2 separate regions of the Homo sapiens genome follow, and region 1 is linked to region 2. The links come from fine-mapping of genetic effects on gene expression. A gene starts in region 2. The other region holds a variant in brackets. All regions are shown on one strand. Distances are from middle to middle.

Region 1 (2,925 bases), 60 kb after region 2:
GAACACGTGGACACAGGGAGGGGAATAACACACACTAGAGTCTTGGAGTGGGGAGGGGAGAGCATCAGGACAAATAGCTAATGCATCCGGGGCTTAATACCTAGGTGATGGGTTGATAGGTGCAGCAAACCACCATGGCACACATCTATCTGTGTAACAAACCTACACATCCTGTACATGTATCCTAAAACTTAAAATTTTTTTTAAAAAGCAATAAATTAGGTTTTAATAAAAAGGCATAGAAAAACTTTAGCCCTATTTGTCTGGAAACTGAATATAATAAAAATGCAAATGTATTCCTTGAAAAGTTTCTAATTATGATAACTTATATTGTCCTCATTACTAATTAGTTGAACATTTTATATGTTTATGCATCATTTGCATTCTCCTGTGAAATGTCTGCTCTTGTCATTGCCTATTTTTCTATTTTTTTAAATTTCTTATTGATGGAAGTTTTTTACATATTGTATATACAGATCCAATATAGATTATATGTGTTATAATTATTTTCTGCCAATTTGTGATTGGTATTTTTACTCTTTCTAATGACTAAAAGTTTTTCTCAATGTGGTCAGTTCCTTTATGGTTGCTGGTATGTATTTAGTCTTTTTTAAATCAGTTTTACACTTCTAAGAAGGCAGATACCTGTTTTGATAACTCTTCTTTGTTAAACACACACACACACACAAAGCAAAAAAGGTTTACCATAGCTGTTACAAGGTCACTATAATTTTGGACAATAATTTTAGGCAGTAACAAGCAGATCTTTAGAAGTACTGCTATACTCTGTGTCATTTTATAATATATATTTTAAGGAATTATAAACAAACTGGGATTCCCCGGGGCTATGAGAGGAGAGGTTCAGTCTAAAAGTCAGTTAAAGAAACACAAGCCTAAGAGATATGATAGCTATGTACAAATATTTGAAGGCTTATGACAAAGAAGAAGGAGTAAACAGAACTGAAATGAAAGGGTAAAAATTGCAGAGAGGTTTTCAGCTCAGCATAAGGAAGGATTTGAGCTATCCAGCAAAGGAAGAGGATGCCCCCATGAGGTAGTGGCTCCTAAGATTTTTTCCAAAACTATAATTTTGAGAATGTCTCCGGTATTTTTTCATGTGTTTATGATTAAGAATACTACAGATTTTTTTAAATATAATGCTTTATTGAAGATTAGTAGCTTTATTTTGAGTTTGGTAGTGAAACTATCCTATCTAGAATTTTCATATGAAACTAGGAATTTGGCCAGAGATACCAGTGCAAGCTACATTATTTTTGCAAAAATAGCAAGGTTCTCAGCTTTTGTATTAATTGTTAGGTAATATTTAAGCACATGTATGTGAATAGAAAAATACATAAACAGTTTTAAGTATATACTGTGTCTTTAACTGCGATCAATAATCTACAATCCACAAAACTACAAAGAACAATAAAGCACAAAGATAAATAATGCAATCAAGAAGTACAAAAGTGACTTCAGAAAATTGATGAGCAAACTGAGGGATGAGATAAAACCCTGACACAGCAGTTAAGTGAACAAGGAAATTTTTATGCAAGGTGTTTAAAGCTTTTTAGATAAAGATGAGGACTTCTCAAGATTTAGAGGAAGAAAATTCCAAGAATAGAAAACA[A/C]CATAGAAACTGTATTGCTGCCAAAATTATCTTGGTGGAAACTATAACATTTTGCATATATAGCATTTAGCATATTGATACAGGTGGAAATAAGCATAATACAGTGCTTTTTAAACTGTGGGACATGACTCGTTCGTCAATTGTGAAATCAACGACTGGTAACCAGTATTTTTTAAATGAAGTCTAATTTTAGAATTAGAATATTCTAGAATGGAAACTACCAGACGGTATCATACGTTGTGAGGATAAATATATTTTATAAAACTACATATGTCTCCAAGGTCACAATGCAAAATATATTTATTTCTGTGAGACACAATCAATCAGAATGAAAATTACTAGCATATGTGTAAGAGCTAGAAGTTTAGATTTTAGAGCCCAACTAATTGGAGCTGAATCCCAGCTTTGCCCCTTACTGGCTCTGTGACCTTGGGCAAGTTACTTATCCTCCCTCCTGCCTTAATTTCTTTTTTGTTGTTGTTTCTTTTCTTAACTTTTATTTTCGGTTCAGAAGTATATGTGCATGTTTGTTATATAGGTAAATTGCATGTCACTAGGTTTTGGTGTACAGATTATTTTGTCTCCCAGGAAGTAAGCATAGTACCTGGTAGGTAGTTTTCCAGTCCTCACTGTCCTCCCACCCTGCACCCTGAAATAGGCCCCAGTGTCTGTTGTTCCCTTCTTTATGACCATATGTACTCAAAGTTTAGCTCCCACTTATAAGTGAGAACATGCAGTATTTGGTTTCCTTATGTTCTTGTGTTAGTCTGCTTAGAATAATGGCCTCCAGCTCCATTCATGTTGCTGCAAAGGACATGATCTTTTTTATGGCTGCATAGTACTCCATGTTGTATACGTACCACATTTTTATCCAATCTACCATTGATGGACATTTAGGTTGATTCCATGTCTTTGCTGTTGTGAGTAGTACTGCAATAAGCATACACATGCACGTGTCTTTATGGTAAAACAATTTACATTTCTTCAGGTATATGCCCAATAATGGGATTTCTGGGTTGATGGGTACTTCTGTTTTAAGTTCTTTGAGAAATCGCCAAACTGCTTTCTACAATGGCTGAACTAATTTAGATTCCCACCAGCAGCATTTAAGTATTCCCTTTTCTTTACAACCTCACCAGCATGTTAATTTTTGGCTTTTTAGTAATAGCCATTCGGGCTGGTGTGAAATGGTATCTCATTGTGGTTTTGATTTGCACTTGTCTAATGATTAGTGATGTTGAGTATTTTTTCATCTTAATTTCTTTATATGTAAAAATAGTGATGATAATAGTGCC
Region 2 (2,925 bases):
CTGTTTGTTCAATATACATGCATCAGAACTACCTTCATAAATATTCATAGCTCCTCCTATATCCTATAAATTATGTATGTTTAGCCAACTTTTCAGCATAAATCTCCTACCTCAACATCCCTCCTTCAAAGTACCTGCCTCTTTAGGCTTCAGTTGGAGGCACACTCCCAGCTTGTGGGATGGCCCTCCTTTCAGGCTGTAACCCTTTCCTCTCCTTTCTAGATTCATAAATTACGTGTTTTTTTAAGTTAACGTAAGAAAGGATTTATAGGCAATTGAGAAACCAAATTATGCTTCTTAGTGCTAATATACCAAGCCACAAAGCAGTGAGATGCCTAGGACTTACGAGATCGCAAACTAATAATATAGCAAAAGCTGGACTTCTGGAAAGCTAACCATGCCTAAATATTCCAAATAGCAACTCTAATATTCTCATATTCATCTGTACTTTGCACTGCCCTACTTTACTCAGATCACCCATGGGGAGACAAACGTGTGATGACAGCAGTGGGAATAGAATCAAGGCCATTGCCTGTGGCTAGGCCAATTAAAAACTTGCCAAGATAGCCAAGTGTCCAGTTGTATACATTTAGCTTTTCATGTCAGAATTGTATATTTTATCCTGTTGGTATGCTTCTGAAGGAGAGTTCATGTGTTTTGTGTCTTAAATCGAAACTGGATTTGTTGTGGCACTTTAAAATCTGTCGCCAGTGTACATTCCAATTTGAGTCATTGCAACCAAGTTTGCAAAGATTGTTTTAAACAGTTTCAACTGGAAAAGTTTATTATTTGAAATCTTAAAATGAACAAATTAATTCACAAAGGCAGAGACATTTGAATGGTGGGTGAATAATCTTTATTTGGTCTGTACTTTCTGCTTCCAATCTGGGAATTTTTCCAAGAAAACACTGACTGAAATACAGTCAGAATTTATATATGCATTTACATTAGGCTCCAACAATAAGATTCAGCCTTTTTCAAAACTGTCACTTGCATAGCCAATAAACTAGTGTCTCAAAAATCCATTTAATTTTCCATACTTCCCAAAACCATTTCAATGCGATGATCTCTTTTGGCATATCTTCCCAAGAGATTGCTAGTTTTGCTGTGATGGTCCATTTCCAGAATCTGGCAGCAATGCGAGAACCATTAGGAGGCTTTGAAATGTAGACCTTCTAAGTAGGGCAAAGGCAAGGAAGACGACTGCAGAGGGAATGCCAGAAGCATTACCGAGTGGATGAGAGAATGCAGGGAAGGAAAATTTCCACTTCACAAAGACATTTTAAAGAGACGGTGTTTGGGGATGATGATGCCACAGAAAGACTCACAACTCAAAATCTCACAACAGGATTCAGTAGTTTAACAAATTCAACTCCAAATTGTCCCCCAGACAATCACTGCAGACTCCTCCCGGTGGCAATTGCCTGTATCTGAGGATTTTACATCTGTCTTTCGTCACTGTCGGTACTGCCACAAAAACACTCTCATAAAAAGGGAGGCAGAACTGCATCAGGCTCTAAAACAACACTCAGCTCACCCCTCGCGCAACAACCCGGGTCCCTAGGGATGCTTGGGTTGCCACCCGCCGCTCGAAGCTGGAGGGGCCGCCGGAGCCTGCGATTGGCTGCTTCGGGCACATCGTCCCGCCCCGACCTGTAGCTCCTCCCAGGTTTCCGTTGTCAAGGACGCGCCGTCGGTTGTTGTCAAGATGGCGGCTGCAGGGTTGCTGCCGCCCCATCTGCTATTGCCCGGCGAGGTCGCCGCTGCCTCAGCTGCCATCGCCGCTACAGGCACCAGTGCCGCTGCGCGGGAGCTAGGGCTGTCGAGGCCAACCCTTCCGCGCCCGTGACGCGGGGCCTGAGAGACGGAGTGTAGGGAGGGGCCGAGCAGGAGGAGGAGGAAGCCGGAGCTGCCATGAGGGAGGTTCTGGGGGCGAGCAGACAGGCGGCGCTGAAGTGAAGGATGCTGGCGGGGAGGCCCGGAACCCGGAGCGCGGTCGGGGAACTGGGCACTGAATCATCGGACAACCTCGACAGAGCCCCCCTCGGCCCTCGGGAGAGCGGCGGGCATCACCGACCTGGCTCTTACCTGTATCCTTCCCAGCCTGTGGCTGCCAGGGTAGCGATGTTGAAAACGGGGCCCATCTTTTTCCAATTAGATTCCCATTACCTTTGACGCAGGGTGATCAAAACTAGCAAGTCATCTTAGTGCAGATATTTCCTTTAGCAACTGTCGTGTCTCACCTTAGACCTGAAATTATACCATTTTATCTAATTCTGTGGCTGCTTCCCCCCATCACCCTGTTATCCTACTCCCATTCTTCAACTTTGTAAAATTTTTGTGAATTTTAAAACACATCAACTGTGTATTCTGTGGGGATATTTTTATGCCATTATGTTCTTTACTTACATATTAACTACTTCCTGATTTATCGTACTACTTGGAGAGAGAAATTACACAAATAAGTAAAATGTTTTGCTATCCTAAAGAGTCCGTTTTAACAGTTATCCTAACACAGCCCTAAATGCATTTACCAGAGCTGCTAAAGGCTACACAGTTTGGTAAGTTGTTTTGTTTTCCATCTCTGCCCAGTCTGTTGTCAGAGCGACAGAAAAGAGGAAATGAGAAACAGGGGACCTGGACGCTTTACAATCTGGATTAACTCTGACTTTTCTCGAAGAGTTGGTTAAGCCTACCTTTGATGTTGCTGTTGGTTGCATTGTAGAAAATGGAAAGAGGAGAAGTATTTTGTTATCAAAATCTGTAAATCAGGTTTATTCCTTTAGAGACTGTTGTGATGATTAGGATTTAACCTTTGTATTCCCAAAGGACTTGGTTGGCAATGATGGTGTTGTGTAATCATCTTCAGTCTTGTCAGAGATGAGTGTCTTCTCTTTCCAAGTTAACTCTGTTTTCTTATCCCCT

What was found. PIP is the estimated chance that this variant, and not a neighbour inherited with it, causes the effect. A credible set is the group of variants that fine-mapping cannot tell apart.
Region 1: its variant is the best candidate, but not a certain one, in a credible set for the expression of CEP126 in whole blood (TOPMed, PIP 0.69).

What each region holds. Positions count from the first base shown.
Region 1 is chr11:101,973,469-101,976,393 of GRCh38, forward strand. All of the region lies in intron 6 of CEP126 (centrosomal protein 126), which reads left to right. Among named protein-coding and RNA genes, the nearest start is that of ANGPTL5, 58 kb to the left of the region's middle. The variant A/C (reference allele first, on the strand shown) is at 1,631.
Region 2 is chr11:101,913,323-101,916,247 of GRCh38, forward strand. CEP126 (centrosomal protein 126) reads left to right here and starts at 1,688. Exons shown (of 11, transcript NM_020802.4): 1 at 1,688-2,090. The coding sequence starts at 1,963. It overlaps ANGPTL5 (angiopoietin like 5), which reads right to left. Exons shown (of 9, transcript NM_178127.5): 1 at 2,697-2,925. RefSeq lists an enhancer at 1,607-1,706.